Homo sapiens: one gene and its partners. The protein of the gene in region 1 purifies or fractionates together with the protein of each later gene. This does not show direct contact. Each region holds a gene or a part of one and is shown on either strand. Other genes may lie near its edges.

Region 1 (3,500 bases):
GGGCAGGATCTGCCTTGTTAGGCTCCCACCAACAGGGAGCTGAAATCCTGAACATGAAGGGCCTCAGGGGCAAGCAAGACCAACGTGAAACCCTGTTCTTTAAATTAACTTCCATCCCTCCCGTATTTCCAGCCTACTTCTAGTGAAAATGGCTAACGGGGTAAAGTAACATGTAAAACCTGCTTAGAGAACCGTTTTATCTCGCTCCCACTTGCAGATGGTGTTTTTTGGCTACATGGTTTTCAGTATCCTCTTTGGCCTCCTGGCTGACAGATATGGCCGCTGGAAGGTAGGTGGGGCCTCACAGTAGCATTTGGAATTGTCTTTTGTGTATTCTTTTGGGGGCAACCTTATCACTGTTTCTCTTTAGTAGGCATCTCCCTCCCAATACCCAAGATAGAAAATGCAGACATTTCCCTCCCTGATGGAACATTCCAGGCTTATCTTCTGGACATTTTTCTCAGGGTACCTGTGCCTGCAGCTGTTCCTCTGCAGTCCAGGTGTGGAGTAAAAGGAGATGCGGGTATTATAGAGTTCTAAGAAATCTCTACCCAGAAGGATTAAAGGAAGGAAGGCCGCTAAGTGGCTCTATTTGAACTTTTAAAGGTTGGGACTTAGAAGCAGTCATGGGTTGGTTAGATGCCCCCACCACGTCCAGTTTACTGTGGTGGTGTTGAGAACAGAGGTCTGATATCAGTGGGGGCACACATCTGTTCTCCATTTATCCATATCTTCGCTTCTAATGAGTTAATAAGGGGAATGGAAAAGGCCCCTTAGCCCTTCAGAGCAGCCCTATTGGGAGGTTTTTTCCTCTGGTTTTCATTTAAATGACTAGTCCACTGCTGCAACAGCAAGCTCAGAAGAAGCTGTTCTTTCAGGACTATGTGTCATGAGTGAGTGTCCATAAAGTCTCTAACCCCCCAGAGCACCCAAGTAGGTTGGGAGGGAGCAAGTCTCCCTTAATTTTGGGGCAAGAAAACTCACCCTCAGGCACCTATCTGTTTGAAACTAGCAGGAACTGGCCACAAATGAAAAGAGAAGTCCAAATTACAATCAGTAGGAAACAGATGCAAGTTTTAAAGCCTGTGATGGAATTTTAGGACAAGAAAAAGTAAAATGACTAGTGCTGGATGGCCAAGACCATTAAGCCAAACCTGCTGCTATGAGGCAGAGGCAGAGAAAGCAGAAGTTCTCTGCAGAGCCATTTGCCTGAATGTCCCGTCCAGGGACAGAAATGGAAGCCCATGCTCTTAAATGAGAGAGTTTATAAAGAAGCCACCCAAACTGTAGACCTCAACCTAAAGGAAAGGAGGGCCAGATTCAGAAAGACTCACCCTTTTGCCCCCAGTGAAACCTCTGGAGTTAGGGGAACGCAGTGGGTTCATGCAGCAAGTTCAAGAGGAGCCTATTGGTAATTGTGGGGGTAAGGGGTGGTGTTGCTCTGAACCTTGCCAGCTATGCCAGAAATATTGACCTAAAGGAAGAAACAGAGACGAAATTAATATAAGTAGGGAGTTTATTTGGACCAAGATTGAGGATTGCAGCTCGGAAGTCATACAGTCCAGTTGCCCTGAATATATGCTCCGATTAGCAGCAGTTACAAGTGGGTTTTTTAAAGGAGGAGAGAAAAGAATTTGGGGGCACTTCCTAAGTTATTTACTAATAATTTACATTGGTTCGTTAAAATAAGGTATGCTATCAGCTGATTCTACATCTTTCTTGGTGTCACAAAATCTAAAAACATGGAGATAATGGATGAGCGTCACATTGTGCAACTTGCGGTAACCTTTTAGGTAATTTATCAGCTAGTCTGGAAACTACAGGGAAGGTAAGAAAAACAAAATGAAATACAATTACCCTGGGCATGGGTGCGGGAATGTGACCGGAGTCGCATGCTCCTGTGTCTCTGGACCTGATAAATTCTGCATACCTCACATTCCTCAGACTGTTCTGAGCCGCTTTTCTCTCTCAAGTTGATGGATGTACGGAGTTAAAACATATTAGAGTGTGGACATTTGCAGGTATAAACATAAGCAGCTACACATTTTGCTCATGTTGGTATAGCTTTGAAACTAGCTACGTGCTCAAAGTCACGTGCCTACTAAGATTAGACATCAAGACATAAATTATGTCTTCTGATTACAAACCCAGGTCTGTCTTTTCTATTTGCTTGATTTCTGGTGAAATCCTCTCTGAGCATAAACACAAATGGAGGAATCTCAAAGGAAAACATTAGTAGAATTGGCTGTATGTTTTAAAGTACATGAAATAAATAGCATAGATTCTTGTAAATTTGAAAACACGAGTATCTCAAAAAAGCACAAAAAGGCATTTTATAAAAGAAATACAAATTATCAAGAAACTTTGAAAAAACATTAAAGTACAGGAGTTATCAAAAACAAAATACATAGCAAGATATAATTTTTCCTTATCAAATATGTAAGGAAATTTTTCCTTAAAGAGTCCTGCACCGTTGAAATGGACATTTTCATGACTTGCAAGTATATAGACACCCTTACTATATATAACACCCTGTTGGTGTTAATATATCATTATTATTATATAATATTATTAAACCCTATTGGTATAATTTTTCTGACCATCAGCCTGGCAGTATGAAACATGAACCTTGAAAATATTCTGCTAACCTGAACATTTGTCTTCCAGAAATCTAGCTTGCTAAAGATATCAGAGAGGGCATAACGACTTATGTACAGATATCATCGCAGCTTATTTTAATAATGAGAAGATCTGAAACAACTTAAACTGCAACAGTAGAGCAAGGTCTTATGTATTATATTACATGTATGAAAGTACATCTTTCCACTGGAACATTTATAGCCAGCCATTAACACTTCGTTTTCTCTCATAAACAGAGAAGATAAAACAGTGTTAAGAGTTATCTTCTCTGGGTTGGACAATCAATGGTGATTTCAATTTCTTAATTTTCTTTTTTCTTCTGTATTGTTTACTATGAATTTATCCTTATAATTAAAGAAAAAGCAAATACCTTAAATGTTCTCCTTGTACTCCTCCCAACATACTGCCTCATTACGTCCCCAGCAGCCCTGTGAGTAGGGAGGACACGTTTTTGCCTTTTGATGTCCAAGTTCAGGGACCTGCCACCCATGAGGGTGGGCACAGCATGGTAGTTTTAAAGAATGGTCTGAACTTGGTAGGTCTGGGCTTCCAGACAGTAGAATGGCATGGATTGTATTGTTGGATGATTGTGAAAGACCAGTGGGCTTGCTACAGGTTAGCTCCTCAGAGAAGCAACTATCAGGATGGAAACCGAAAATCGCCTTCAGAAGTTAGGGCTTCTTCCCTCCCCGCATTGAGGCAGGTCCCATTCATGTGTTCTGCTGTTGCTTCAGATTCTGCTCATCTCGTTCCTGTGGGGAGCCTATTTCTCCTTGCTGACCTCGTTTGCTCCTTCGTACATCTGGTTTGTCTTCCTGCGGACGATGGTGGGCTGTGGTGTGTCCGGCCACTCGCAAGGG
Region 2 (3,455 bases), on another chromosome or scaffold:
ACCACGTGGCAAATCACAGCATAGAGGAAGTTGGGGAGTTTAGAGAGGGTGCCAGTACCCTGGAGCCACACAGGTGCAGAGCACTGCAGGTAAGCTGCAGAATGGCCTATAACAGGCTAGAGTGTCCCCTTTGGAGATCTGAAATGGGTCTGCTGAGTAAATCTGGGGATGCTCCAAACACAAATGCATCACCTTCTCCCATTTTGTTCTCCTGAATCAGTCATAATTCCCCAGGGAAACTTCTGTCTTTGGCACCCGAGGATACAGGGCTCTATTCCCATGATAAGAAGAAAATACGTTGCCATCGCCAGCCAGCACTTAGGACTCTCCAAATGAGGCAAGCATGGCTGAAAATGGATCTCTCACTCTCAGCAAAAAAGCTCCTAACAGAAGACAATGTGTTACATCTCTGACTCCTAAGAGAAAGAAATAGACACCTGGCTCACAGTCACCTCTAACATCGGGTAAAATAAAGAGAGAAAGAAAGGCAGTCACTTGAATTCACTCATCGTAACTTCATTTTATTACAACATCAAGGAAAATAGTTGCAGGAGGAATGAAAATGGAGAGAAACATAGAGATTAAGCTACTCACAATTCCATTGTCTATACCTTCCTACAAGGGTATAAATATCACAGGTTTCTGTACATGCATTGGAGGTTTGCTATGCGTGTGTGGATTGTGTGTGGATGACTTCTCTCTAGGGTGTTGTTCTTTTAATTTCTTGACAGATGATGGTTGAATTTGGTGTTTTCAGGTGGACTAGGAGGGGGTTCTCCCACTAGGACTGAGACCCAGCCTTCTTCTTCTGGAATTTTCTGAACTGAGACTGAATGGCCACCGCTGCACGTTCTGTCTCTGGTGCATCCATGTCAATGTCAAATTCTTCTTGAACTTTCTTCTGTCCATCTGTAGCAAGACAAACACAAACAGAAGGCAATCACTGAGCTGAAAATAGGAAAGCAGACAGCCCCACTAGATAAGTGAAGCCAGGAAGTCCACCTTGGGGCACACACAGGGGCTTAACTTACACCCCAGGACAAGAGCTCATCTGCAAAGTAAAATCCAGTGGAGTGTTTTGACAGAGCTCAGAATCTACCACCTGAGCAGGACAATGAAACTCAAGGACACAGTCTCAACACTTCATGTATTTTCTGCACATGATTTTCTGTTCTCAGTGACCATCTTGATATATGGTTTTAATACTGGCTGTGCTGTTACTTTCTCCTGCTATCTCACAGAGGTACCATTTAATATTGCTAAGATATTGGTCCAATGATAGCTGATATTCACAATTACTGAGTCAGCAGAGTCATATACTGAGTTTCCGTGTATAATTCTGTGTGTCATTCTCAGGAAAGATTTGCTTATTGCAATCAGGGCTTCCATTTTTATCATCGTCAAGATGGGATGACACCATTTGACCTTCACAGTTCGACTGAACTTTCACAAAGCTTACATTCTTGTTCCTATGAGGTAGACTTGGCAAATGGCTTGCTGAGGTGGAGGGATTTCACCAATTCACACGGTGACAGGACACAAAGTGGGGGGTGGTGAGGAACGAAGGCTTGGGCCTCTGTGCTGTATACCTTACCACAGCACAGGGCCAGTGCAGCCAAGACGGAAAAACAAATAAATCAATAAAATTCTTCAGTCGTGGAAGGTAAATGTCTTTCAAAAGCCTCTAGTCTGATGAGACCCGGCGTGTTCAGGGTGGTATGGCCGTAGAGTGTATAGTGTATGCTGCTCAGGTGATGGGTGTATCAAAATCTTACAAATCACCACTGAAGAACTTACTCATGTAACCAAACACCACCTGTTCCCCAAAAACCTACAGAAATAAAAAACTAAAATAAAATAATAAATGCCTCTAGTCTGATGAAGGCTAAACATCAGATTCATCAAAGGCATCGTTTTTCTTTTTCTTTCTTTTTTTAAATACAGGCATGAGGGTCTCACCCCAGACTCAGGGCTTCCTCCTTGCACAGCCGCAGTGGGAAGGGTGCTCCTAAGAGCAAGATGGATGTTGAGAAATCCGTGTCCCTGTGGGGAGGCCAGACATCTACACTTCTTTTAAAAAGACTCTCAGGTGTGGCCAGAATTGAGATCCAAGGACAAAGGAGGCCTTGGAGTTAGCTCAAGCCAGAACTGGGGACAGAACTGACCTCTCCTGGGACCTGGGCCAAGAGCCTCGCTGCCACCCTGGGCTTGCACCTAGAGCAGAGGAGGCCAGCCCTGTGAGGAGCACAGCCAACTTGGAGATGGGAGAACTGGAGGCATTCTGAGGCAGAGGAAAAGCCCCAGCCAGTGAGCAGGGAGTGGGGCTCTATTCCTGAGTGTCACCAGGCAGCCTGAGTTCATCATCCACTACCTTGTTTAGGGACTTTGCATAATAATGCTCAGGCACCAGCTCTATCAGAGAGGGTGGAGGAAGCTGGGGTTCCTTGAGGACTTGAGGTAAGGCCTGCCTGTTCTATCCTGCTTGCTCTAGATAGATGATGATAGATAGATAGATAGATAGATGATAGATAGATAGATAGATAGATAGATAGACAGATAGATAGATAGATGATAGATAGATAGATAGATAGATAGATAGATAGATAGATAGATCAGAGAGACAGACAGACAAACATAAGTAGATGATAGACAAATACAGATAGACAGGTAATAGATAGATGAGAATCAGCACTTATTTCAGATGCATCTGCAGAGCTGTAAGCAGCCTCCTCTCAATTTTCCTAGATCCTAATCAGTTTCCACCTGGGACCCTTCAATCATCCTCTCACCTAGGAGGAGGGAATGTCAGCTCTGGCTTTGGAAGCCTTGTAGGACTGATGGAGCCATGACCCAAATCAGAGAACTGTTGTCTTCTATTTCAAACTTGCTGCCAATGCTCATAAAAGCAGAGATGTTGAGTGCACCAATGTTCAGGAATATTTCAGAGGCAGGGGATGGGGGTGCTTCCTTTTTAACCCAGGACAGCCCAAATGATAGACAAGTGGAACTGTTTCTCACACTCCAGGTAGCTATTCACATTGTCTTCTACATTGCCAGGGCCCTTTCTTTGGAGAAAAATAAGGGGTAGGATCACTGGGAGAAGTAAAAGTTTCCTGTGGCTCAAGTAGATGTTTTAAAAGTGGTTAATTAATGTTATCACATGAGCCTGGGACTGGAGGTCAAGTGTCTAGCAAACCCAGAATGCAAATGGCTCCAGTGTTTGTGCTCATGGCAATAAACCCTTTTGTACCAATAACATCCTTGGTTAGGTAGCATCTACAGCACTGGGAGTTGTCATTTTTCATAAGATGGTTTATAGTCCCAAATCCTTCTACTCCCAGAGGAATCCTTGCATCAACTGTACAGTGAGTGCAAAGGGGAAAAATTCACTCCTGATTCCAAGTAGGAGGGGAAGTTTCCCTTTTAAATGTAAAATGTTGCTGGAATCTGAAGTT
Region 3 (3,318 bases), on another chromosome or scaffold:
TTTGTTGAGTAATGAGTGTGGATAAAGTTGTAGATAGTGTCGGTCACTCATTGGAATAAGATTAACTTAAATTTGTCACATTATTTCTCTTCTCTCTAAAGGGGACAACAGAAATACTTTCTTATTGTTCCTATGTCCTGTGTCGTATGTCCAGTGAAGGAGACTCCCCAAGTTGGCTTGCTCGCTAACAAAAAGGAATGATGTTGGTAAACATGGAATCAGTGAGATTGTTACTCCTCAGGTTCCTGTATGGACTGGTGATTGTTATCTATATATAATCTCCATTTTCTTTTAATTCTACTAAAACAGTGGTTAAGATATAAATTCCAATTAGGTAATAAACTTTGCCAAAGAAAAAACAGAGAGAACTCTTTATATGAAGTAAATTTCTCAGACTAGAGTAATTGGGACACCTCATTCTCACTATACTTGGTTTGCTCACAATAGTTATTTCGATTTAATTTTTGGGAAGTGAATAACTGGTTCCCCTGCAACCTACATTTATTTCTTCTTCTTTTTTATTTAAGCATGGAAAAGGATATATACAAGCAATACATTCCAATTTCAGAAACACTTAAATTCTAGTATTTGTAACAATGACATTGGAAAATGTTTTAAAATAATTCATTTTAGGGCTAAGAAAACTGAAATTATTTCACAAAGGTAGAATTTCATTCCACTAGAATGCATATTATATGAACATTGAATTTTAACAAGTTTTTAGTTTGAAAAAGTATTTTTCAAGAAGGAATTTGTTTGGACATAGAGAAATTTTCTTTATTACAGGTGAAAACCTATCCATAGGGGTGAAAAATTTTCTGTCTCAGATTTTTCCTGGAGAGCATAAAGACAAATAATTGTACTATATGATCTGTAAGTGCTACAACATGAATTAGATTATACTTCTCTACTTCTGTAAATAAATATGTCAGAAAGATAATAGAAATAAAGCCTTGAAGTAGAAGGGAAAGAAAAGAAGAACAGATGAGTAAGGGGATATTATTTAAAGGAAGCAGAAGAAAACATTGAGTCAGCTTGTCTTGAAGTGCCACTCTATATTTTATTTCCCAGTTAACCATGTCTACATTTTCTAAGATCAGTATATTGTTTTCTTTGTTATCATCATTAGGCTCCATAATATAATTTTACATCATATATTATTAAACATTTATGACTACAAGAAATTCTTGAAGCTACTTCTACATGTGATCATATCAAAGTATAAATTTTGCTAACAAGACACGCTGTGTACCACCTTACAGATTTATAGTTTATGCGGCAGAGTTAGAAATCTGTGACAAGTCCTAACACTTGTCACATCTCAATGTGGTTTTCCTTAAAAAAAGCAGCCAATATCCATGTAAACAGTACATTGTGAGATGTAAAATTTGATTGATAGCTCCTAAATATCATCCCAAATATACACAAATTAAAAGATTATTCTAAATGCTTTTTCATCTTACATATCAAGAAACTCATAAAGATAACATTATAAAAGGCAACATTTGTTAAAAGGCCACTGTGGTTAACTTTATGTCACTGGAGTCAATACTGCAGCCACTGTCAATTTCCTGGATGGTTGAGGTTAGAAGTTGATTCTTTCAAGGCAAACATCAAGTAATTCGATTTGTCTAGATGACTGAACAGAGAGAATTCTTAGCCACTCCTTTCAAATGGATTGTTCAGGTCAAGTTACTTTAATGCCAGGTCAGTCAGGGAATCAGAGACCTTGGTGTTGACCTGTGCAGAAAGACTCGCTTGTGTAACGTTGAGATAGATGTCATACTGCTGGTCCAGGCCAAGGTAGCAGTCACTCATGAAATATAATGTGTAGATATACCTAAAATATAAAAATAGAAGAAAAATGTAAAACCACTTTTGTAATCACAATCATATTTAATTCTTTCAGAACTTTGGTAGTAGGAGGCTGGGTGCGGTGGCTCACGCCTGTAATCCCAGCACTTTGGGAGGCCGAGGCGGGCGGATCACGAGGTCAGGAGATGGAGACCACGGTGAAACCCCGTCTCTACTAAAAATACAAAAAATTAGCCGGGCGCAGTGGCGGGCGCCTGTAGTCCCAGCTACTCGGGAGGCTGAGGCAGGAGAATGGCGTGAACCCGGGAGGCGGAGCTTGCAGTGAGCAGAGATCGCGCCACTGCACTCCAGCCTGGGCGACAGAGCGAGACTCCGCCTCAAAAAAAAAAAAAAAGAGAACTTTGGTAGTAGGATTCTTCTTACCTTCCAGGTATTTCAGGGGTATAAAAAGAAAGGGAAGCAACATGATGATTTCGAATATATCCTACTCTTTTCAAAGCAATAAGTTCTCTCTTATCCACTTCTCCTAATATCAAAAACCATCCTTCGTCTTTTGATTTGGGAAATCGAGGAGTAACTGCACAGCTCTCTGGCTTTCCCTGTAAACCAGAAAAAAAGATACAACATTAAAAATATCTAGACTTCCTATACCACTTGGTTGTGGTTAAGGCTACGTTGTCTTACTTGAAGGCCATACATCTACATAGTTCAGCATATCTATCTGAGATGTTTTAAATTTTCTTCCATTCTGGTTTGGTGTCTTTGATATGCAATTATTTAACTTACTTCAAGATTCTCAGAGCATATTATAGACACTAGTTCGTAGTTGTAACTATCAGAATATATGGCCAGTTAGAATAAAAAACTCTGGATCTTGACATCAAATTAGCAAATTCTCATGCTATTCCTACAATTAACTTTAATACCACATTGGTAGATGAACAAATTGAGACATAACCATGTTAATCAAATCTTCCAAAACCTTATTCACCAAAAACGAATGCTTAAGAAAACAAACAAACAAACAAAAACACAAAGCCAATCAAGACTAGACTCTGGACCCCAAGATGATGAGTACTATATCAAACACATACTTTCCCCCTCATCCAAGAATAAAACTCACATAAAAAAGCACATATTCTAATATGGTAACATTAAAAAGTCCCTTCTCTGAGGAATGGGCAATTTTAAGTCAAGCAATTTGTAAAATATATTAATCACCACAATCCAAAATTAGATATAAATATAATGATCGCACTTGAGGTCTTTATTTTAGATCAATTTTTATAAAATGCAAGATTATTCTAATGATTCTTTAAGACAATGACTTTATGGCATAAAATATAGTAATAATGATACATTCTCAGACTTCACTCAGTATTCTAGAGGGAGATGTTTCACTTACAGTATTTCAAAAGGGAGTCAGAGAGTAATATATTTTTACAGCATTCAGAAACAAAAATTAAGAGATTTTCTGGCATGATTAAATCTAAGCTTTAAGTA
Region 4 (4,293 bases), on another chromosome or scaffold:
AATTAGCCATGCGTGATGGCACACGCCTGTAGTCCCAGCTACTCAGGAGGCTGATGCAAGAGAATCGCTTGAACCTGGGAGGAGGAGGTCGCAGTGTGCCAAGATCGCACCACTGCACTCCAGACTGGACAACAGAGCTAGACTGTCTCAAAAGAAAAAAAAAAAGAAAGAAAAAGAAAAAAGAGAATTGACCCTCATGACCTTTGATCTAGAGTAAATCATCATACATGAGACGAAGAAATTGGATACCATGTTCTAAAAGTAAGCCGACTTGTTTTTCTTTGATTACCTTTCCTGGCTCATGTATCTTAGAGCTGTCTTTTATGACCCCAATTTTAAAATGCTATTGTTATCTTCGTTTAGGTAAGGGTTTCAAACCAATGATCAAATAAAAGGTCTCAACCAAGAAATATAGCACATTACTGTTAAACATTACCAGAAAACATTTTTGCTCATTGCTTTTATTAATCTTATTACAGAATATAAATTTTTCACAGGTGTGTTCTTCATCATAAAAACAGCTGCCATTTATTGAAGACTATTATATGCAGTTCCTACTCTAAGTGTTTTTCTTGGATTATTCCATTTAATCTTCACAATAACCCTCTGAGTCAGGTCTAGTTCATGCCCCATTTTCAGAGGAGGAAAAAAGGGACAAAGTGGTCAAGTAACCTGTCCAAGGGTGACATACCTAGAAAGTAGCAGTTTGGACAATACAAGCCTGTCTCTCAAAAGCCTCTTGATATAAAGACATTGATTTCTAATTTAAAATTATCTTTGAATTAAATCAAAGAGAATACATGTTGATGTTTCTGAGATAAAGGTGACAAAAAAATATAGTTTACACATTGCTAACCGCAGATCCTAATCTTGACTAAGTTACACAGGACCCACTCTTTATAAACACATCAATCTAAATTTAAAAATCAAGGCTGGGCGCGGTGGCTCACGCCTGTAATCCCAGCACTTCAGGAGGCCGAGGCGGGTGGATCACTTGAGGCCAGGAGTTTGAGACCAGAGTGACTGACATGGTGAAACCTCGTCTCTACTAAAAATATAAAAATTACTTGAGTGTAGTGGTGGATGCCTGTAATCCTGGCGACTCAGGAGGCTGAGGCAGAATTGCTCAAACCCAGGAGGCAGAGGTTGCAGTGAGCTGAGATCGCACCACTGCACTCCAGCCTGGGCGACAGAGCAAGGCTCTGTCTCAAAAAAATTAAAATTAAAACGTTAAAAAAAAAAAAAAGAACATTAAGGCCAGCATGGTGGCTCATGCCTGTAATCCTAGCACTCTGGGAGGCCAAGGCAGGAGGAGGCAGGAGGACTGCTTGAGCCCAGGAATTTGACACCAGCACGGGCAACATAGCAAGACCCTGTCTCTACAAAAATTAATTAATTAATTAATTAATAATAACAATTAGCTGGGCGTGGTGGTACAGCCCTGTGGTGTCAGCCTCATCAGGAGGCTGGGAAGGAAGGATGGCTTGGGCTGGGTAGGTCAAGGCTGCAGTGAGCTAGGATCAAGGCACTACACTTCAGCCTGGGTGACGGGGTGAGACCCTGTCTCTAAAAAAATAAATAAATAAAAATGTGAAAATCAAGAGAACAGTAAAGAAACGGGCACTGGAGAATTCCTGGAGCCTTTCTCTTAACTTTCCCACATCCATCAGACATCACCTCCAATAAACTGTTTCCTTCCTCACCTAGGCTGGAAAAAATATGGGCTCCCCTGTACCATCAAGACTTAAAACCAACAGAAACACCTATTTTGTAACACTCGGGAACTTTCTATGCCAGCATATCGAGGTTCAATAACAGCTGTTCCCTTCGGGAAGTGACAGTGGGAACCAGACAACACTCGTGTCACAGGAGGGGCGGGGAGAGCCCACGCTGACGCGACAGCCCTTTGCACTCTCCAAGTCCCTCTCCGACCCGACGTGTCACCTTAGCCCCCTGCGTCACCCCAACGCCTCCAGCCAGCTGCGCAAAGCTGTAAAAGTTCCAGGGAGAGAACAGCCTCTGGAGACAAAAAAAAAAAGGAAACCTCCATCTCCAAAGAGAACCGAGGAGAGGGAGGAGGCTGTGGTGAGCCTCCCTGGCCAAAGCGACAAAAGCTGGAAGCCAAAGCGTAGACTACTCGGCAACTTTATCAGAAGAGAAACTGAGGCAGGCACCGCAAGGCCCGAGGAGCCAAGCCGGCTCCAACAGGCGGGGTCGAGCTCCAGGGTGGCGCTGGGGGAGCCGCGCTTTCCCCGCATCCGGCGCCAGCAGCCGGGGTTTCCGAGCCGGGAGCTCCCTCCTCGCAGCGCCCCCGAGGATGCCCCCGCCCCCGCCTCCGCTCAGAGCCGCCGGTGCTCGCCCCCCGCCCCAAGAGCTCGCCGGGGGGTGTGCCCGCGCCGCCGCCCCCGGGAACGCTCCCCGGCTCGCGTGAGGACCCCCGCGCTGCGGCCTCCCGCCCGGGCCTCTCAGCTGCCCGGCCCCGCCCGCCCCGGCCCGGCCAGGCTGCCGCGGCCCCACAGTGCGACGTGTCACAGGCCGCGCCGGCCCCGCCTCCCAAGCCACGGGCACTGGCGCCCGCGGGGCCTCCCGCCGGTTCCCGCAGGGATGCCAGGCAGGCCCGCACTCGCCCGCGGCCGCTACCTTGTTAGTGGGCACCGAGCGGAGGCGCTTGAAGATGGTCAAGATGTCCTGCTTGCTGGGGTCCCCCATCGTCAGCTGTGAGCCGCGGCGCAGCTGGCCCAGCCAACCGGTAAGAGTCGACGAAAAGCGGCTACCGCCTCAGCAGGAGCGACGAGGCCGCGGGGGCGGGGCTGCGCGTAACGGTCAGGCTCCGCCCCAATCCCCGCCCACGACCGGGCCCGTCCACCGCCGGGGCGCAGGCGCCGCTCGCTTTCCCTCCCCGCCCTCGCTTCAGCCGCGCCGCTGGCCCGACCCCAGGCGCTGCACGCGCGTGCGCAGGAGGCTCGCGCGCCATTTGCGGCGCGGCTCCACGCCCTTAGCGCTGGGCGAAGCCGGGCCCGGGTGTGGCTGCCTGCCACGCGCGCTGCCATAGGATCCACCAACGTTTCGCCTGGTCGATCGCCATTTCGCCTAACGGGCTGCTTCCATGGAAAGGTCAGAGGCAGGGGAAGGGGCGCACGCGCCCTCCTTCGGCACGAGACGGACGGAGGGCCCGTGCCTTGACGCCGGACCTTAGCTGGTGGCCTTCCCTTTTTTTTTTTTTTTTTTTGAGACGGAGCCTCGCTCTGTCCCCCAGGCTGGAGTGTAATGGCGCGATTGCGGCTCCTTGCAACCTCCCTGGTTCAAGCGATTCTCCTGCCTCAGCCTCCCGAGTAGGTGGGATTACAGGCGTACATCACCACGCCCGGCTAATTTTTGTATTTTTAGTAGAGACCAGGGTTTCACCATGTTGCCCAGGCTGGTCTCGAACTCCTGACTTCAGGTGATCCACCCACTTCGGCCTTCCAAATTGCTGGGATTACAGACGTGAGCCGCCGCGCCCGACTCTTTTTAATTCTTGCCCTCAGCTCACGCCAGGCCCTGGGTGGAAAGCTTTCTTTGCCCGGAAACTGGCTTTCTGAAACCAAGGGCTTTTGTGTCACGTTCATGGAGAGATGGCAGTGCGGGTTGAGGCAGAAGTGCTCAGTCAGAACTGATGAGTCCAGATGAGAAGCTTGACTTTTAACCCCGGCCCTCGGGGCTGCACCCTACCCTCTGGGAAACAATTCCAGCCAGAAGAGTTTACACTCAGCAGAAGGTGCCTCTGTCACCACAATGGGTGTGGAGCCACTGGAAAGAGGTTGGGTGATAGTGAGGAAGGACAGCAGGTTTTGGCATCAAAGGCACTACCTTGGCCTCAATCCCAGTTCAGCCAGCTGCTTCCTAGCTCTGTGGCCTTGGTCAAGACACTTACCTTCTCTAAAGCATGGTTTATTTGCAGTCTCAGGGGCTCATGCCTGTGATCCCAGCACTTTGGGAGGCTGAGGCGGGAGGATCACTTGAGCTCAGGAGTTCAAGACCAGACTGGATAATATGGTGAAACCCCGTCTCTATAAAAAAATGCAAAAATTAGCCGGGCATGCTGGCATGGGCCTGTAGTCCTAGCTACTTGGGAGGCTGAGGTGGGAGGATCGCTTTAGTCCAGGAGGTCGAGGCTGCAGTGAGCCAAGATCGCACCACTGCACTCCAGCATGGGCGACAGACCAAGACCCTGTCTCAAAAAGTAAAATAAAATAAACCATGGTTTATTCATCTGTACAAAGAAATTAAAGAATCAGTGCTGAGTAGCACAGG
Region 5 (3,500 bases), on another chromosome or scaffold:
GACGTGATATCACATCTGGCTAGACGTGATAAACTCCGCTTTTTAAAAAAATTTCCCCGGCCGGGCGCGGTGGCTCATGCCTGTAATCCCAGCCCTTTGGGAGGCCGAGGCGGGCGGATCACTTGAGGTGAGGAGTTCGAGATCAGCCTGGCCAACATGGTGAAACCCCGTCTGTACTCGGGAGGCTGAGGCAGGAGAATCGCTTGAACCTGGAAGGCAGAGGTTGCAGTGAGCCAAGATCGCGCCACTGCACTCCAGCCTGGGCGACAGAGCGAGACTCCGTCTCAAAAAATAAAAATAAAATAAAATAATCCTCCCTCTTCTGGAGTGCTCCTCCTAGTGGCTGATTTTGGACAGGCCAAATCCCTGAAAAAATACAGTTCTCTCCTTATTTAGATGTGGCCGTAGAATATTTATAAGTAAACTCTGTGCCTTTTAAAAACTCTTCTTTTTGGCCGGGCGCAGTGGCTCATGCCTGTAATCCTAAACACTTTGGGAGGCCGAGGCGGGAGGATCCTTTGAAGCCAAGAGTGCAAGACCAGCCTGGGCAACATAGGGAGACTCGATCTCTATTTGAAAAAACAAACAAAAACCCTCTTTTTCCTGACCACATCTATTGGCCAGTTGTAAAATGACCCAGCCTTACTTTAAAATATGCTCCGCCTCCAGGAACAGCTATGGAATGGTTAAAGACATCATTGCTTTTGGCTGTTTACAAGACGGTTCCAATTTTGGAATTGTCCCCACCTCTGTGGACAGCCATTGGCTGGGTCCAAAGGGGCCCCACCCCCCCTACTCCTGTCCTCCGGGTTCTACTGAAGTGGGCAAAATCCCCGAGAAGCAGCGGTGTCCCCAGCCTCTCACTCGGAGCCGATATGGGGAGTAAAGGTGGGCTTGCGGAACGGGCTGGACGGGGGCTGAGGTCGGCGGAACGGGGTCCAAACTCGCCCTTATCTCCTGCACATCCGGAGCATTTTTATTACTGATCTGCTTCCGCAGCGCTGCAGGCTGGGGCTAGGGGGCCGAGGGGCAGTATAGGGAGGACCCAGAGGGAGCATGGGGTCCCTTCTCCTTCGAGCCAGCACTTTGGGGCCCAGGAGCAGGGAGGACCCCCTCCCCCAGCCTCGGCCCCAGGCAGCGCTGTCACTCAGGGGCCAGACGGGCCAGAACAGCTGCGGGGAGGCCCCCTCCCCCCAGCGTGCCTAAACTTAGCCCCCGCCTCAGGCGACCTGGCCCCTCCCCCATCCACCGGCGCCGGCCACTAGGAGCCTGCCTGGGAGGGCCCTGCTATGGGGAGGGAGGGGCTGCCCTATTTGGAGGTAAATGAGAGGAGATGCATTGGAAGGAGACGGAAGTGAGGGGTGAGCCTCTAAGAGGGACCGGTCGGAGGGGTCAGTTGGAGGGAGTGTGGGAGGATAGAGAGGATCTGGAAAGAAATAGAAAGGTACTGAGTTCCTGGTTTTCAGGACTCAAAGGAAAGCAGATTACTAAAGTTTCTTTTTCTTTTTAAGCCACAGAGTCTCCCTCTGTCGCCCTTTCTGGAGTGCAGTGGTGGGATCATAGCTCACTGCAGCCTCCAACACCTGGGCACAAGTGATCCTCCCACCTCAGCCTCCCAAGTAGTTGGGACTAGAGCCACAGGCCACCACGCCCTGCTAATTTTCTTATTTTGTTTGTAGAGACAGGGTCTCACTATGTTGTCCAGGCCTCAGGTGATCCTCCCGCCTCGGCCTCCCAAAGTGTTGTGATTACAGGAGTGAGCCTAAAGTTTAGACAGATGAGATGAAGGTTGGGGTACAAAGGTCACTGGTCAGGGCTGAGGTTGGGTTTAGGAGGTGTGTTTTAGGGTCTCAGAAAGGGGTCAGAAATTTGAGTTAGGCCCTGGAAAGGAGTATGGCGTGATTAATACATTTAGGACTTAGAAACATGTGTTGCTAAGGGTATCAAGGGGATATCACTTTACACCTGACAGATTGGCAAAAGTTAAAAAGAACTGCAACCCACTGCAGGGCAGGATGCTGGGAAAAGATCTTTCTCTTGCTTCTTGTGGAAATAAGAACTGTTATGGTCTTACTAGTAAGCAGTGTTTCAAAATTTATGACATTAAAAAAATATATATGACCGAGCGCGGTGGCTCATGCCTGTAATCCCAACACTTTGGGAGGCCGAGGTGGGAGGATCACTTGAAGCCAGGAATTCAACCTGGGCAACATAGCGAGACCCTATCTCTACAAAACATTTAAAAATTAGCCAGGTTTAGGAGGTCGAGGTGGGCAGATCACAAGGTCAGGAGATCGAGACCATCCTGGCTAACATGGTGAAACCCCGTCTCTACTAAAATACAAAAAATTAGCCGGGCATGGTGACGGGCGCCTGTAGTCCCAGCTACTCGGGAGGCTGAGGCAGGAGAATGGCGTGAACCCGGGAGGCAGAGCTTGCAGTGAGCTGAGATCGCGCCACTGCACTCCAGCTTGGGCAACAGAGCGAGATTCTGCCTCAAAAAAAAAAAAAAAAATTAGCCAGGCCAGGCATGGCAGCTCATGCCTGTGATCCCAGCTAGTTGGGAGGCTGAGGCACAAGAATCTCTTGAACTCGGGAGGCAGAGGCTGCAGTGAGCTGAGATCATGCCACTGTACTCCAGCCTGGGTGACAGAGGAAGACTTTGTCCAAAAAAAAAAAAAAAAAAATTAGCACGATATCGTGGTGCCACCTGTAGTCCCAGCTGCTAGGAGGCCGAGGTAGGAGGTTTGCTTGACTCTGGGAGGTAGAGGCTGTAGTGAGCCATGATCACGCCACTGCACTCCAGCCAGGGTGACAGAGTGAGACTCTGCCTCTAAAAATAAAAAAAAAAAAAATGTGGCCGGGCGTGGTGGCTCACGCCTGTAATCCCAGCACTTTTGGAGGCCAAGGTGGGTGGATCACCTGAGGTCAGGAGATCAAGACCATCCTGGCTAACACGGTGAAACCCCATCTCTAACTAAAAATAACAAAAAATTAGCCAGGCATGATGGCACATGCCTGTAATCCCAGCTACTCGGGAGGCTGAGGCAGGAGAATCGCTTGAACCCGGGAGGTGGAGGTTGCAGTGAGCCGAGATTGCACAATTGCACTCCAGCCTGGGCAACAAGAGCGAAACTCTGTCTCAAAAAAAAAAACAAACAAACAAACCAAGGTCAGGCGTGGTGTCTCACGCTTGTAATCCCAACACTTTGGGAGGCCGAGGTGGGAGGATTACTTGAGGTCAGGAGTTCGAGACCAGCCTGGCCAACATGGTGAAACCCCATCTCTACCAAAATATAAAAAATTAGCCGGGTGTGGTGGAGCCCTCCTGTAATCTCAGCTACTCAGGAGGCTGAGGCAGGAGAATTGCTTGAACCCAGGAAGCGGAGGTTGCAGTGAGCCAAGATTGTGCCATTGCACTCCAGCCTAGGCAATAGAGCGAGAATCCGTCTCAAAAAAAATAAAAACAAAAACAAAACACACACACACACACACACACA
Region 6 (3,500 bases), on another chromosome or scaffold:
AACCCTTTCCTTACTTTCTGATGCAACAAGATATCCCAGGTTCATCTTGCATGGGCTGAGACCTGGAATCGGTTGTTTATCCAAAGAGCTTTTGTTCCTTTTAGAGGGTAATAGTGTTTAGAGATCACAACTGGGCATATAATTTATTACTTTTTTGAAAGGTAAGGTGATTTAAAATAGTGTCTTTGCTCCAATGAGAAGAATATATTGGGACCTCTCTTAAATTTCCTGCTCCTATATTCCCTAGATTTTTATATTACAGTCATTTTGGTGTTTATGCTATAATTACAGTAATAGCTACCATTTATTGTGTGCTTAGTGTGTAACTGATGCTACAATGTCTTTGACATTGTCTATTTTTCCCTCATAAAAAAATCTTATAGCTATTTTTACTTCCATCATATAGATGAAGAAATGGTGGTTCAGAGTGTAAACAGCTTACCCAAGGCCACAGAGCTGAAATTTAAGCTGGTCTGTGCAACTTTTTCTTACGCATATGTTCAGCTAGGAACATTAGATGTGAAGAAACCCAGTACTTAGATTTTAGAAAGTTTTATTCTTAATGGAGAATATAGCTTTTGTAAAATTTTAAATGAAATTAGGTACAAACTTGAATATAGTTAGCATTCATACATCAGATTTCATTGGTGACTATTGGAGAGGCTAAAAGCACCCATGAAGAAATTCAGATGGGACCAAGCAGGGAGTAATTTGCCAGTCTCAAAAATGCTGTTTTAAGGAGCAGTTAGACTTGTAGTTATGGAAATTACAGTGTAGAATGGTGGACTTTTAGCATCAGTCTTTAGCATTAGGCTTGTAAGAGATGCTCTCTCAAGTGGCATCCCTGACGCTGGTCTCTTACTCTTCATAGTGTTGTCCAGTGTTTACCATCTTATTAGTTCCCTATTGTCTACTAATAAGAATCCAAATTCCTTAGCTTGACATTCAAGGTTCCCCCCCACCCACAGCCCACTCATGTGAGTCATCTCATTAAAAGATCCTACAGTGTTGTTTCATCGTATGTTTGAAAGACAGCTGCTTACCACATTTATTACCTAGAATATTGTAAAACTTATTCATTGAGCTAAAAATGTACTCTCAGAGAGTGTAGGCATCTGCAGGTGTCTTCATATAATTGCTCTGAAATGTGCAGCAGGTTAACTTTTCAGTCATCCTTTAGCCTGTGACTACTAAGCATATACACACACACACATATATGAGTACTTTATCAATAATTTGTAATAAACTCATTTCAGGCAAAGAGCTTCTTCAAGAACTTGATTGTTATGTCTCAGTTTGCAAAGTGAATGGAATGTCTAAACACATACAAGTCTTGGTGTTGATTCCAAGTACAGCAGCTTATTTGAGAGTCTGAGACTAGAGCAGTAGTCAGTTGATTAAGTCTAGGGTGTTATTGGGACCACCCTTCAGGTAATCCAGCCTACAGTTTCCCCTCAGGCCCATGCTTTTCATCTTAGTAGGTGTAGGCTGCTAGGCAAGGAAAACTTAAAGTGATGATCTCTGCATTCTCAGCTGGCTTTATCCTCTTTCTTTGGTTTGTTTAATGTATTCGTCTTACCAGTCATAGCTATGGTTTTACCATTCTAGCCATTCTTCAGTACATGCACAACACACATCCATATACATTCCTACGTTAGAGATAACATTTTTAGTCATTTTCCTTTATTAGTGACTTCATTCAAAATCCCATGGTATACAATTTCTGTTGTCTTTATTCTAAGGCTTCTGCCCATAGTGAGAGACTGAGTCAGTAATCCAGTAATCTGTAGATTCAGTTCAATCCCAGTCAAAATCACAGCATGGTATTTTGTAGCTATCTGTCAACTAGTTCTAAAATGGATATGAAGAGACCAGAGAGTTAGAATGGCCAAAATATGTTTGAAAAAGGAGAACAAACTTAGAATACCTGATTTCAAGACTTAGTATAAAGCTATAGGAATTAATACAGTGTGATATTGCCAGAAAGATAGACAAACAGATAAATAGTCTATACATGGTTAGTATATAGGTGAAAGGTAATTCAGTGGATAAAATACAGTATTTGTAGCAAGTGGTACTAGAACAATTGGACATCTGTATGCAGAAAAACCCAAAACCAGTTTTAATTCCCACTGTATAAAAATTGACCCAAATGGGTATCATATGTAAATGTAAAATATACAATAATACTTTCAGAGGAAAACATAGGAGGATATCTTGTGTTAGGCAGAGTGCTTAGATAGGACTCTAAACCATAAAAGGAAAAAAGATACATTTTGAGAAAGACCAGTTCAGAACTTTTCTCTGCAAAAGACACTGTCAAGAGAATTCCAAGACAGTACCTCCAAGTCAGATATCTGAGAAAGAATTAACATCCAAAATATATAAAGACCTCTCAAAATTCAACTATAAGAAAACCAATAAGTTCATTTAAAAATGGGCAAAAGGTATCAACAGACACTTTCACCAGAAAGCTATACGCATCTGAAAAGAATGTTCTAAAAAAAGAGAAACCTTTACCACATTCAGAGCAGTTGAAACTCTTTTTTTTTTTTTCTCTCTTTTTTTGAGACAGAGTTTCGCTATTGTCCAGACTGGATTGCAGTGGCGCAATCTCAGCCCACTGCAACCTCTGCCTCCCAGGTTCAAGTGATTCTCCTGCCTCAGCCTCCTGAGTAGCTGGGATTATAGGCACCCACCACCACAATATATATATATTTTATATAATACAATTTTTTGTATTTTTAGTAGAGATGGGGTTTCACCATGTTGGCCAGGATGGTCCTGGACTCCTGACCTCAGGTGATCCACCCACCTCGGCTTCCCAAAGTGCTGGGATTACAGGCGTGAGCCATTGCGCCTGGCCAAAACTCTTCTGCATTAGTGGTGGGAATGCAAGATAGTATAGCCACTTTGGAAAACAACTGGCAGTGTCTTTATAAAAATTAAGGTCATATTTACCTTATGTTTCATCATTCACACTACAAAATATTTGCCCAAGAGAAATGTTCACACAGAAACCTGTCTGAAAATGTTCATACCTGCTTTATTCATAATTGCAAAAAACCAGAAACAACTCAAATGTCCTTCAGCTGTTGAATGGATAAGCAAACTGATATATCCATACAATGGAATGCTGCCCAACAATGAAAGTAAACGAAGTATTGACATGTGCAGCAGAGTGAGTGACTCTCAAATCCATTATGATGATAGAGGCCAGACCGTAAGATTCCATTTATGTGACATTTTAGAAAAAGCAAATCTTTTGGTTGGAGAACAGATCAGTGGTTACCAGAGGCTAAGAAGGTAAGGAGGGTTTGATTACATGGAGCAGCACAGGATGATGGAGTGATGGAGCTTTTCTGCATCTTCATTGTGATGGTGATACACGTATCAAAACTCTCACTGTATGTGAAACGAGGATTTTTACTGTATGTAAATTTTAAAATACCTTATATGTAAAAGATACAAGTTTTTCCATGAATATCCTTTCATATTTT
Region 7 (3,500 bases), on another chromosome or scaffold:
AAGACATAAAACCAACTTTGGAAACCACAGATCTGACTTTGTTGCATGTGTGATTTGGTCCCTTGACTCACTCTTGGGTGTAGCAGGAAGACCTCCAGTAGAGAGAATCAGGAGACCTTAACCCATAGTCAACCTTGGCCATTGGCCAACCAAGAAATTTAGAGCAAGCCATTTTCTGACTGGGCAGGAGTCCATGTCTATAAAATGAGGGTATAAAATGATTTTTGAAGCCTCTTTTAGTTCTCTGGTTCAGTGATTCTAAGATGTTAACTTTATTAAGTTAATGTGAACTTTCATTATTTTGCATTAGTTCATTGTTTTGCATTAGTATTGGGATAAGAAGTAAAACCACTCTCTTCTCAGCAACTAGTCTCTTGATACATAATTGTTGCTATTGATAATTCAGTTAAGTATTTGAAGTTTGTTTTTTCTTTCTTTTTTTTCCAGAGAACTCTTATTATTAGTCAATGGTAATTTATTCTTGAGTTGCTCTGAATACCTACTAGTGCCATAATATTCCAAATGAACCTGGGTATCCGTTTCTTGGGGGTGGGTTTTGTTTAGAGGTTATGGGTGATGGTGAAAGTGCACATGATTCTCCCCGTGACGAAGCACTGCAGAACATCTCGGCTGATGATCTCCCAGACTCTGCAAGCCAAGCAGCCCACCCGCAGGATTCAGCTTTCTCTTACAGGTATTTCTTTTATAGGATTTGGGACTTTAGGGTTTGGACTTTTCAGCACCATTGCAGTCACGTCAAGTCAAGTGATGTTTTGAGTCAATAAATGTATAAAGCAGGGAGAGAAAAATGAAATGCTGTTTACTAAGAAGACTTTGTTTCAGTTGTAGATGTTATGTATCAAAGGTGTTAATTCAAGGATTTAAAAAACTCGCTGGGCGTGGTGGCTCACGCCTGTAATCCCAGCACTTTAGGAGGCCAAGACAGGTGGATCGCTGGAGCCCAGGAGTTGGAGACCAGCTTGGGCAACATAGCAAAATCCCATCTCTATAAAAAAGAAAAAGGAAAAAAAAAAAAAGAAGAAAGGGTTTCTTGTCAGGTAGTGAGCTTATTTTGTGGCGTCATCAGCGTTTCTAAAGAGATGTGCCAGAAGGCATTCCAAATCTGGGTGTTGGGAGCTTCTGACTTCCGTGGTCCCTCCCACTCTGCCATAATATGCTTTTCCGATTCTTATAGCACCCGTCATGGAACTCAGTGTATGAAAAAAGGTCAGAAAGGATTTGTTGTTTGATTCTGGTGCTTTAAAGAATGGTCCTTGCCCCGAGCACACCTGGCTCCTTGGGTAATTAGAAAGCCTGTTCTTTTAAGTGGAGTGTCAGTTAAGAATCATCTTCTTTAAAATGTTTGAAACATTTGAGTCCTAAGGTAACATTAATTTATATAGTAAATATTTGTAAAATGTGACCATATCTGGATAAAGAAATTAATGTATTTTCTACTCATTTTTCAGAGATGCAAAAAAGAAACTGAGGCTTGCTCTTTGCTCTGCGGACTCTGTTGCCTTCCCAGTGCTGACCCATTCAACAAGGAATGGTTTACCAGACCACACAGACCCAGAAGGTAAATTGCTGCAGGATCGTTTAATTTTTCCTATGTTTATGGGTTGCACCATATGAAATTGCCAGTATTCAGCTGTTGAAGCTGTACAGCAATTCCATATGGTTCAACTTAATATGTTTACATTAGTATCACTTAAGGGCACTTTGATTACTGATGATTTATTAAAGTATTTTCTAATTGGGAGTGGCAATACAGCTTAGTTCTAATGATACGTGACAAAGCAGAATTGACGTCCCAAATGCTGAATTAGCTTATTTAAGCACATGGAAATTCTCAAGAATAACAGAATTCTTGTATCTTTTATTTAGACAATGAAATTGTATGCTTCTTAAAAGTTCAAATAGCTGAAGCAATTAATTTACAAGATAAGAATCTAATGGCTCAACTTCAAGAAACAATGCGCTGTGTGTGCCGTTTTGATAATAGGACTTGTAGGAAACTGCTGGCTTCGATTGCTGAGGACTACAGGTAATATACCCCACCTGTTCAGCTTTTAAACCTAGTTGTTAGCTGCAAGTGTTTTCTTTTTTATCCTTATTTCAGAAATGAATCTAGGCTTCCTACAAAGTGCTTGGCTGTATTTTCCTGGATGTAGATTTCTGTGTTAGTCTGTTCTCACGCTGCTGATAAAGATATACCCGAGACTAGCCAATTTACCAAAGAAGAGGTTTATTGGACTTACAGTTCCATGTGGCTGGGAGGCCTCACAATCATGGCGGAAGGTGAAAGGCACATCTCACATGGCAGCAGACAAGAGAAGAGAACTTGTTCAGGGAAACCCCCCTTTTTCAAAACCATCAGATCTTGTGAGACTTATTCACTATCACGAGAACAGCACAGGAAAGACCTGTCCCCATTGATTCAATTACCTCCCACTGGGTCCCTCCCACAACACATGGGAATTCAAGATGAGATTCGGGTGGGGACACAGCCAAACCATATCTTTCTGCCCCTTGCTTCTCCCAACTCATGTTCTCACATTTCAAAACCAATCATGCCTTCCCAACAGTTGCCCAAAGTCTTAACTCATTTTAGCATTAACTCAAAAGTCCACAGTCAAAAATTTCATCTGAGACAAGGCAAGTCCTTTCTGCCTATGAACCTGTAAAATCAAAATCAAGTTAGTTACTTCCTAGATACAATGGAGGTGCAGGCATTGGGTAAATACAGCCATTCCAAATGAGAAAAATTGGCAGAAACAAAGGGGCTACAGGCCCCATCCAAGTCTGAAATCCAGCAGGGCAGTCAAATCTTAAAGCTTCAAAATGAACTCCTTTGACTCCGTGGCTCACATCCAGGTCACGCTGATGCAAGAGGTGGGTTCCCATGGTCTTTCTTTTTTTTTTTTCCCCCGAGATGGAATTTCGCTCTTGTTGCCCAGGCTGGAGTGCAATGGTGCGATCTTGGCTCACTGCAACCTCTGCCTCCTGGGTTCAAGCAGTTCCCCTGCCTCAGCCTCCCAAGTAGCTGGGATTACAGGCATGCGCCACCACGCCTGGCTAATTTTGTATTTTTTAGTAGAGATGGGATGTCACCATATTAGCCAGGCTGGTCTTGAACTCCTGACCTCAAGTGATCCACCTAACTCAGCCTCCCAAAGTGCTGGGATTACAGGTGTCAGCCACCACACCCAGCCAGGGTTCCCATGGTCTTAGGCAGCTCCGCTCCTGTGGCTTTGCAGGGTATAGCCACTTTTCTGGCTGCTTTCATGGGCTGGTGTGGAGTTGCTGGCTTTTCTAGGTGCACGGTGCAAACTGTCAGTGGATCTGCCATTCTGAATTCTGGAAGACAGTGGCTCTCTTCTCACAGCTCTACTAGGCAGTGCCCCAGTAGGGACTCTTTGTGGGGGCTCCGATCCCACATTTCCTTTCCGCACTGCCCTTGCAGAGGTTCCCCATGAGGACCCTGCCCCTGCGGCAAA

What was found.
Region 2: the proteins of SVOPL (region 1) and PCP4 purify together in Homo sapiens (affinity purification with mass spectrometry; one large-scale study listed by BioGRID and IntAct). This does not show direct contact.
Region 3: the proteins of SVOPL (region 1) and ASCC3 purify together in Homo sapiens (affinity purification with mass spectrometry; one large-scale study listed by BioGRID and IntAct). This does not show direct contact.
Region 4: the proteins of SVOPL (region 1) and ARFGAP3 purify together in Homo sapiens (affinity purification with mass spectrometry; one large-scale study listed by BioGRID and IntAct). This does not show direct contact.
Region 5: the proteins of SVOPL (region 1) and RTN2 purify together in Homo sapiens (affinity purification with mass spectrometry; one large-scale study listed by BioGRID and IntAct). This does not show direct contact.
Region 6: the proteins of SVOPL (region 1) and EIF5B purify together in Homo sapiens (affinity purification with mass spectrometry; one large-scale study listed by BioGRID and IntAct). This does not show direct contact.
Region 7: the proteins of SVOPL (region 1) and GAPVD1 purify together in Homo sapiens (affinity purification with mass spectrometry; one large-scale study listed by BioGRID and IntAct). This does not show direct contact.

The regions. Positions count from the first base shown.
Region 1 is NC_000007.14:138,659,863-138,663,362, reverse strand, and holds part of SVOPL (putative transporter SVOPL), read left to right. Parts: intron 1-217; coding exon 218-289; intron 290-3,374; coding exon 3,375-3,499; intron 3,500-3,500.
Region 2 is NC_000021.9:39,926,438-39,929,892, reverse strand, and holds the end of PCP4 (calmodulin regulator protein PCP4), read right to left. Parts: intron 910-3,455; coding exon 782-909; 3' UTR 501-781; downstream 1-500. UniProt on the Homo sapiens protein: Functions as a modulator of calcium-binding by calmodulin. Thereby, regulates calmodulin activity and the different processes it controls.
Region 3 is NC_000006.12:100,507,694-100,511,011, forward strand, and holds the end of ASCC3 (activating signal cointegrator 1 complex subunit 3), read right to left. Parts: intron 2,415-3,318; coding exon 2,239-2,414; intron 1,841-2,238; coding exon 1,693-1,840; 3' UTR 501-1,692; downstream 1-500. UniProt on the Homo sapiens protein: ATPase involved both in DNA repair and rescue of stalled ribosomes. 3'-5' DNA helicase involved in repair of alkylated DNA: promotes DNA unwinding to generate single-stranded substrate needed for ALKBH3, enabling ALKBH3 to process alkylated N3-methylcytosine (3mC) within double-stranded regions.
Region 4 is NC_000022.11:42,854,474-42,858,766, forward strand, and holds the start of ARFGAP3 (ADP-ribosylation factor GTPase-activating protein 3), read right to left. Parts: upstream 2,801-4,293; 5' UTR 2,710-2,800; coding exon 2,641-2,709; intron 1-2,640.
Region 5 is NC_000019.10:45,490,548-45,494,047, reverse strand, and holds part of RTN2 (reticulon-2), read left to right. Parts: intron 1-669; coding exon 670-888; intron 889-3,500. UniProt on the Homo sapiens protein: Inhibits amyloid precursor protein processing, probably by blocking BACE1 activity. Enhances trafficking of the glutamate transporter SLC1A1/EAAC1 from the endoplasmic reticulum to the cell surface.
Region 6 is NC_000002.12:99,364,889-99,368,388, forward strand, and holds part of EIF5B (eukaryotic translation initiation factor 5B), read left to right. Parts: intron 1-3,500. UniProt on the Homo sapiens protein: Plays a role in translation initiation.
Region 7 is NC_000009.12:125,348,826-125,352,325, forward strand, and holds part of GAPVD1 (GTPase-activating protein and VPS9 domain-containing protein 1), read left to right. Parts: intron 1-564; coding exon 565-694; intron 695-1,469; coding exon 1,470-1,579; intron 1,580-1,887; coding exon 1,888-2,047; intron 2,048-3,500. UniProt on the Homo sapiens protein: Acts both as a GTPase-activating protein (GAP) and a guanine nucleotide exchange factor (GEF), and participates in various processes such as endocytosis, insulin receptor internalization or LC2A4/GLUT4 trafficking.